Linked DNA regions of Homo sapiens: all the other regions are linked to region 3. The links come from fine-mapping of genetic effects on gene expression. A gene starts in region 3. Each other region holds a variant in brackets. All regions are shown on one strand. Distances are from middle to middle.

What was found. PIP is the estimated chance that this variant, and not a neighbour inherited with it, causes the effect.
Region 1: its variant is fine-mapped to the expression of TLR4 in atrial appendage (GTEx, PIP 0.96).
Region 2: its variant is fine-mapped to the expression of TLR4 in whole blood (TOPMed, PIP above 0.99).

What each region holds. Positions count from the first base shown.
Region 1 is chr9:117,678,075-117,680,840 of GRCh38, forward strand. No RefSeq gene overlaps it. Among named protein-coding and RNA genes, the nearest start is that of TLR4, 25 kb to the right of the region's middle. The variant C/T (reference allele first, on the strand shown) is at 1,594.
Region 2 is chr9:117,728,708-117,731,473 of GRCh38, forward strand. No RefSeq gene overlaps it. Among named protein-coding and RNA genes, the nearest start is that of TLR4, 26 kb to the left of the region's middle. The variant A/G (reference allele first, on the strand shown) is at 1,647.
Region 3 is chr9:117,703,213-117,705,978 of GRCh38, forward strand. TLR4 (toll like receptor 4) reads left to right here and starts at 1,191. Exons shown (of 3, transcript NM_138554.5): 1 at 1,191-1,353. The coding sequence starts at 1,261. RefSeq lists enhancers at 613-1,812, 760-1,260, 1,161-1,210, 1,221-1,290, 1,261-1,761 and 1 more.

The DNA.
Region 1 (2,766 bases), 25 kb before region 3:
TGTGAATACATTTTCATTTCTACTTCATTATGTTAAAATGTGTAAAGTAATTAAAACAGTGCCTCAAACTAAATAATGCTATGAGTGTTTGCTACAATGATGGATAATGATGGTGTTGATGATGATGTCAAAGTTGTAGGGCATATTGCTCTTTGTATATTTCATTTCTCCTGAATTAACTCAGCAACAGGTTATGTAAGATAACCCAGAATCCTTATACCCTAGTGAAGGCACAATACCTTTCTTCAGGTTGCAGGTCCCAGGATCAAAAGACAAAAAGTAATATCTTCTGGTAGTACCAGACATTTTTAGTAACAGGATTTTTCTCTAAAGAATTAAAAATAAGCTACAAAGAGGTTTTGGGATTTAATGAGAAATGTGCAAGAAAGATTTGTTTCTTTTCCACCCACATTCAGTTTTAACTGCCAAGTATATATTGTGGTTGGGAATACTTTCTACATAAAGGGACAAAGTTTAGGAGAGAAATTGGTCCTTAAAATATTGGCAAAAATATGGCTAGGAATGACCCAATCTGGGAAGGGTTCATTATGTGCAGCTACATAACAGATAATCTTCTAATTAATTTATTCAAGCAAGGTAATATCTTAAAAAAGTTGTGCAAATCTTAAAAATATTCAAATTAAGTAGTTAATGTCAAAAATATTTAGCCAAATATTTTTGTTCCTGAGTGATCCACACATAGCAAGAAAAGAAAATACTTTTTTTTTAAAAAAGCAAATAACTAAATATCAAGTAACTGATAGCACTAGGGGAAAAAACAGAATTCTTGGGATAGCAAGGGATCTATTCATCATATTCCCTTTCTATTTGGAATACTAAAGGAGAATTTGTTTGGAAAAAGAATACCTTTCCAACTCCCTATTGTCATAGTTTGGGATTAAAGCCAGTACGGTCTGTTCTTTATGAATGTGTCTAATCATAAAAGTATCCCAGAATCTGAGAATGTTTGCACTAGCAGCCCTTGATGACCAACCTGAGACAATGAGGTGAGAGAGTTTATGTTACTTTCTCAAGTTCACTGTTAGTGGGTAACCTGGCAGGGACAAATGACTCAGATCTTTTTATGCTAAGTCCAGGGTTCAGTTTATATGGTTTTGTCTCTCAACTGCTTATCTTTGAGAAGAATTAGCTTATGTTATTGTTTTCCTTGTCAGCAGAATGGAAGCATTGGATTAGATCAGTGGCTTTGCCGAGATTTTCCCTTCCACTTGGTTACTAAGATCCACTTCTTTAGAATCATTCTTCATAGGAAAAAAATGTTTCTTCTCCATTTTTGATTACTTTGTGCAGCAATTTCAAAGACTTACCAATCAAAGAAATCAAGGAAGGTATTGGATAGGAAAACTTTTGAGGGTTCCACATATAGCAGTTTCAACAATAATCAGATGTATTTCCTACTGGTCCTTTTTGCATTCAAGAATGATTATTTTTCTGAAAGAAAAAATTTGTTCTGAAATTTCTCAGAGAGCTGAGCTTTGGAAGGCATTCCATTTAGGAAGATGGAGTCATATCCTTCCTGTTGCATTTAGATAAATGTGGCTAATAGACAACTTTTTAACACATGCTTTCTGG[C/T]ACGTAAATCAGCACTTCCAGGTTTGAATCTCAGGGATTCGTACTTTCAATTGTTGCCAAATATTCAACATTTGGCTCTCTTGATCTTTAGTATTAAACTTTTTTTGACTCCATCTTCTTTCTTTCAGCCACTGTTTTCATTATCTAAAAACAGACACTTAAAGAAATTAGTGATAATCAGTCTTTTCATAAAGCTGAAAAAGGCCTGAGATATTGTTTGGTTTCACTTTCAAGAGTGGTTAAATAACTGCTCAAGACTTCCATATGAATAATTTCTCCATTTGCAAGTTTTTATCTTTAACTTCTTCTTGGTTTTCTCAATGCCACAAAACCTTCTTAGTGACAGGTATTGGGAAAGACAAACTCTTTAGGCCTTCCTTCTTCCTTTGAGGACCAAAGACCATTTCACTTTTAATCATTTTATATATTGTCTCAACACTGCCTGCCTCTTTATTAACCACCTCTGTGAAATCTATTGCTATTAATCATCAAACACATGTCTGAGTATTACTGGCAATTATCTCTGAATGCTTGTTACCTGTTGGTTTTATTACTTGTTTTCTCCTAGAAGAATAGATTGTTTCAGGTCCATAACTCTGTTTTATGTGTATGCATTTGTGTGTATGTTTATATTATTAAATGTAATATACATTACATTTTAATTTATATTTTAAATTTAATTATATATTAAAAGTAATGGCAAAACTGCAATTACTTTTGCACCAACCTAATATTCTTACATTTTAAAATTTTTCTTTTAGATCTCAACTATCATTGCATGAGGTAAAACAATATTTCAACCAAGGATTACTAACACTTTGTTGCCTATGAACGTACATTCTTCCTGTTGCGTATGAAGGCAGAAAGTCAGTTACAATCTATGATTCCCCTCCATTTCATGTTATATCTACTGCAACAATTTTTTGAAGTCTTCCATAAGCTCCTTGATTTTATTCCTCCAGAAATAAGAAGAATGTGCATCTTGGAGTTTGTTTTATTTTAATTTATTAGATACTTGGGGAAATCAGAAATGAAAGAAGCAAAAATATGTAATCATTACTTTTTCAGTCTGTTTTTCTTTTCTTTTCTTTTTTTCACCCTTTAGACACTAGAGATAACTTGTTCACTCTCTATTCTTCTAAGGGTAACTACACAACAGAAGGCTGTATACTC
Region 2 (2,766 bases), 25 kb after region 3:
GGGAAATATATACTGTGTGGCCACCATGACCCTGTTCCAGCAGGGACAAAAACAATGGGAAAAAAAAGCATGATTCTTAATCTCTTGGTAGGAGTTGATGATTTAGGTGACAGAGGGACAGACATGTAAACAAGTGGCTATATTGTAGTGTGACATACATGAGGTAAAGATTAGTGATTTGGGGTTTGGTGACAGACAGACCTAAATCACTGATCTACCACATAGAAGCTGTGTGACCTGGGGCAGGTTACGCTACTTAACCCTTCTGTTCCTAAGTTTCATCATCTAGTCTGGTACATTGAGGATACTGCAGATGTTTGCCTCAGAGAATTATAATGGGATAAAATACATTAATATGATGAATAGAAATTAATTGGCACACCATCATATAGTAAGCACTTAAATTTGTGATACCTATTATTACAATTGTTTTTAATAGTAAAAATAAAGGTGAGATAAAGAAGAAAAAAATTAGAAGGACAGCAGCAGGGAAGACCCAGAAGGGCCTGGAATGTCTCTTAAGGTGTTTAGAAATACTGAAGTTCTTTATTCTAGGGAGGGAAAAGATCGGAAATGAGATGTAACTCTGTTACTCAGGGGATGGTGTGGTGGGTGGATTGAAACGGAAAAGACTGGCCCTAGGAACCCATCAAAAGAACGTGGAGACTTTACCCTCAATTGCTTTGATGAATGTCAAAGAGATTCCTGATCTTGTTAGAAAATGAACTCAAAAATCACGAGACATAGATACTATAGCCCTTTTTAGCTCTGTCCCACAAAGCATGGAGTGGGACTTTCAGGGCCAGAAACACAATCTGTTCTTTTAGAGAGTTGGTAGCAACTGTGATGTCTCCTGTGGCCTGACCCAACAACTTGGGCTCCACTCATTTATCTCAATAGCTCAGGCAATAGATATATATAGAACAGTGGTGACAACAGGCAGAAGGTAATTTAATTTGAGCAAAAGCCTCAAGTGGAAGAGACAGGAGGAGGTCCTTCTGAATGGAAATGCCTAACATGTACGACTTTGGTTTTTTTTTTTTTTTTTTTTTTTTTTTTTTTTTTGTATCCCCTAGCAAAGGCTCAGTCTCATCACGTATCAGGTTGTATTTGACCAAACACCAGAGGGAAAAGAGAAACAATCTAGGCCCGTGGTTATGAAAGGAAAAACGAACCTCTTCTGAAAAAAGAAAAAAAATACATGCGTCTTAGTCCCTTGGTAGGTTTGAAAGAGGAGAATAAGATTATCGGTAATTCTCATGCTATCATTTACTTCCTATGAGCTGACAAGTCATTCTCTCCTAGATCCCCTAAACTCGCCCCAGAATATATTAGCCAGAGGACAAGGGGACAGGCTCACTTAGACTGTAATTGTGTGTGTGTGTGTGTGTGTGTATGTGTGTGTGTTTCTCTCCTTCTATTTTTTATCTAGATACCCCCTTTGCTTCCTCTGCAAATGGCTACTCTGTCACCATTTCCCTTTTTTTAAAAAAATCTGCAGTTTAATTACATGTCTTTCTGTTCCTGATATGTAGAGACAAGCCAGTCTGGGTGCAAATCCTAATTTTTACCACTTCTTGCATGAATAGCTTTAAGAAAGTCATATAACTGTTGTCATCCTCAGTTTGTTAGCATGCCAAATGGGG[A/G]TAAAGATGCTTACTTTCTTAGATTAGGATGGAGAGGGAGTTAGATAGTGGAGGCAGACCACTGGCACACAGTAGGGGCTTAATAAATGCTATTTCCCCACTCTGTGACTGCATGGCCCCAACTGCCCTCGTGGCCTTCAAATCCTCCCACCATACTGTGCCCATTGGCTTCTCCCTGTGTGCATAGACCATGCAAGGGAGGTTTCTTACCTCCCGTATTCTCCCCTTTAATCCATCCACCACACCATCCATGAGTGACAGATGTAAAAACTCATTTCTGATCTCATCCCTTGCTAAGATAAGGAGCTTCAACATTTCCCAACACCTAATTTCTATCTCCTTAAGCCCTTTCTATCCTTCAAAGTCCAGCTAAAACTTCATTTCTTCTGGAAGCCTTCTCTGATCAGATCATCAACCAGTGTTTGCTAGTGCACTGAATTCCAGTAGGATTTCGGGCCCATAGGGGTCCCTTGGATATTCCCAAGCACTCACAGAATGCCAGGCTGTGTGCTGGCATATGCCCTCCATAGACTCTACTTGACCCCGAGCGGAGTGGTAGATGGACATTACAGGGCATAAACAGGTGTGGAGTTAGCCTAAGCCTGAGTTTTCAGGGGAGCCAGACCTAACCAATGCTGAATGAACTTCCTTGGGAGGCAGTGACTTCCCAAACTGTGACCAGCCTTGATGGTCAGGGGCCCCCAATTCTGGGGCAAGGAGCTAGTTCAAGAGAAACATCCAGGGGTGGGGGCTGGGCCTGCAATTGGATAGGTAATAATTTTATCTTTGGTTGACACAGATAGAACTGAGATGTAGTTAAGTGGTCAGCAAACCTAACTAATAACCAAAATCTCCTGGAGAGGGTGCTTTGAAAAAAGAGACAGGTTCATGGACCCCAACCTTGAAGGACTTAATGAAACCCTTCTAAGTTATGAAGAGGAAGTGCATAATTTTTGGAATTCCCTGGGTGATTTGATCATTAAGCAGATTTGAGAAGCACTGATAAAGCCAATTCACCTTGTTTCACAGGAAGGAAACTGATATCTCCACTATGTATTTTCTGTCGTCTCCAAGGATCCCCTATGTGTTATAGTCAAATATTTCAGCATTTGAGAAATTC
Region 3 (2,766 bases):
ACAGAAAAGAACCTTGAGGACATTATGCAAAGTGAAATAAGCCAGTGACAAAAAGATACATACTGTATGATTCCACTTCTAAGAGCTGCCTAGAGTAGTCAAGATTATAGAGACAAAAGTAGTGCATAGATTCAAGGGCCTAGGGAAAGGGGAAATGGGGAGTTATTTATTAATGAATAGTGGTGATGATTGTACAAAAATATGAACATAATTAATGCCACTAAATTGTACACATACAAATGGTCAAGATAATAAATTTTATGTTATGTCATGTTATGTTATGTGATTTTACCATAATACAGAAAATGAAAAAAGAAAAGAAAGAAAGTAAAGCTTAGCGGTTTACATGACTTGACCAATGCCTCAAAGCCATGAGTCACCCAGCTGAGATCTGAACTTCAGTATATTCCATTCTGAAATCCCAGACTTTTCCCAATCTTCTTGTACTTTTCAAACTGTGTTTCAGTTGAGGTTTATTTTCAGTTTTGTATGTGAGTTTCTTCACAAGAAGGGGCGGGCCAAATTGTGTCCTGCAAAAACCTACATATCGAAGTCCTAACCCCTCTACCTCAGACTATGACTGTATATGGAGAGAGAGCCTTGAAAGAGGTATGTAAGGTAGAATGAGGTCATTATGGTGGGCCCTAATCCAACATAACTGGTGTCCTTATAAGAAGGGGAGATTAGAATTCAGACACACTTGCTGACACCTTGAGTTCAGACTGGAAGCCTCTAGAATTGTGAGAAAATGAATGTCTGTTGTTTAAGCCACCCAGTCTGTGGTATTTCCTTATGGCAGCCCCAGCAAACTAATACAAATAGTGTTTCCACAGCTGAAACAAAATTGGAAAATCACCGTCATCCTAGAGAGTTACAAGGGCTATTTTAATAGAACCTGATTGTTTTCCTAAATTCACCAAGCCCAGGCAGAGGTCAGATGACTAATTGGGATAAAAGCCAACTAGCTTCCTCTTGCTGTTTCTTTAGCCACTGGTCTGCAGGCGTTTTCTTCTTCTAACTTCCTCTCCTGTGACAAAAGAGATAACTATTAGAGAAACAAAAGTCCAGAATGCTAAGGTTGCCGCTTTCACTTCCTCTCACCCTTTAGCCCAGAACTGCTTTGAATACACCAATTGCTGTGGGGCGGCTCGAGGAAGAGAAGACACCAGTGCCTCAGAAACTGCTCGGTCAGACGGTGATAGCGAGCCACGCATTCACAGGGCCACTGCTGCTCACAGAAGCAGTGAGGATGATGCCAGGATGATGTCTGCCTCGCGCCTGGCTGGGACTCTGATCCCAGCCATGGCCTTCCTCTCCTGCGTGAGACCAGAAAGCTGGGAGCCCTGCGTGGAGGTATGTGGCTGGAGTCAGCTCCTCTGAACTTTCCCTCACTTCTGCCCAGAACTTCTCACTGTGTGCCCTGGTTTGTTTATTTTTGCAAAAAAAAAAAAGAGTTAAATTACCTTAAAGACTCAAGAAGCCACAGAGATCAAATAATTCATTGTTACAGGGCACTAGAGGCAGCCATTGGGGGTTTGTTCCATTTGGAAATTTTGAGTGCTAACAGGGGCATGAGATAACATAGATCTGCTTAAGGTCCCTGCTCTGCTACCTTGTGGCTCTGTGAAGAAATTATCAAACCTGTCTGAGACTAGTTTTCGCATCTGTAAGAGAATTATAATACCTTCTTCACTAGAGAGTAAGCAGACTGCTTCAGTGTCATTTCTTCCCACTGGTGGTCTTTACACTCAGCTTCAAGCAGTCACCCTGCTCCTTTCAATCTCAGGAAAAAGATGGCTTTTGTGTGTGTGTCTCTAGAGAAAGAACTTTCTAAGTGGGTGTCAGACTTCTGTATGCAGTAATATAGTTTAGTCCAGAGGATGAAAAAAATAAGAGAATGAAAAAGGAAAAGAGAGAGAGAGAGAAGAAAAAAGCAAGAGGGAAATATGTATAATGTCAGCTAATGCAACAGTTTCTTTCTTAGTGAAATACCAATCAGCTGGTTGGTAATCTTATTCATGATGGATCTCTTTTGTTTTTCCCCTGCGCAGACTTCACAGTTGCTTTAGAAACCCATAGTAGAGCCGAACAGCTAAGAAAATGATTTACAGTGAGGCAGGGTCAGAAACTCAAGAGAGAAAAAGCCAGCTGCAGTCCTGAAGTTGAGGATATAGGAGAAAATCAAGTAATATTTAGCAAAGACTAATTCATTATCTTGAAGCCATCCCTTCCCTCAATTCCCTGCCCATAGTCCTCCTCCTTGTCCTCTTCTCTGTATCCCTCTGCTGTTAGGTTAATGGAGATAGATTTTCTAATTAGGCTCACTGCGAGATAAAACCACAGCCAAACTTGACTTCTTTTCCCCATGTACCTTTTCCTGTCAGTCCCTGAAGCCTGTCCATCCCTGCCCATCCCCTTAGTTCCACTGTAAGGCAGGCCCTCATTTCCCCTGGCATTGACTCTTACACACTAACTGCTTTCCTGATTCCAGTCTTCTTCCTTTAATTCATTCTGCACGTTCTTGTTTGTTATGTACTTGCATTTGTTGTTATTATTTTTCCTTAGGCTTCAATCTAACAAATTACTCTCCTTAAAAACTTTTAATAACTCTCCATTGCCATTAGAACAGCTTTCTACCACAGGGCCTTTGCACTGGCTATTTCTTCTACCTAGAATGCTAGATCAGTGCTATCCATTGGCAATATTATGTGAGCCACATATGTACTTTTAAAGTTTTTAGTAGCCTCATTAAAAAAAGAAACAAGT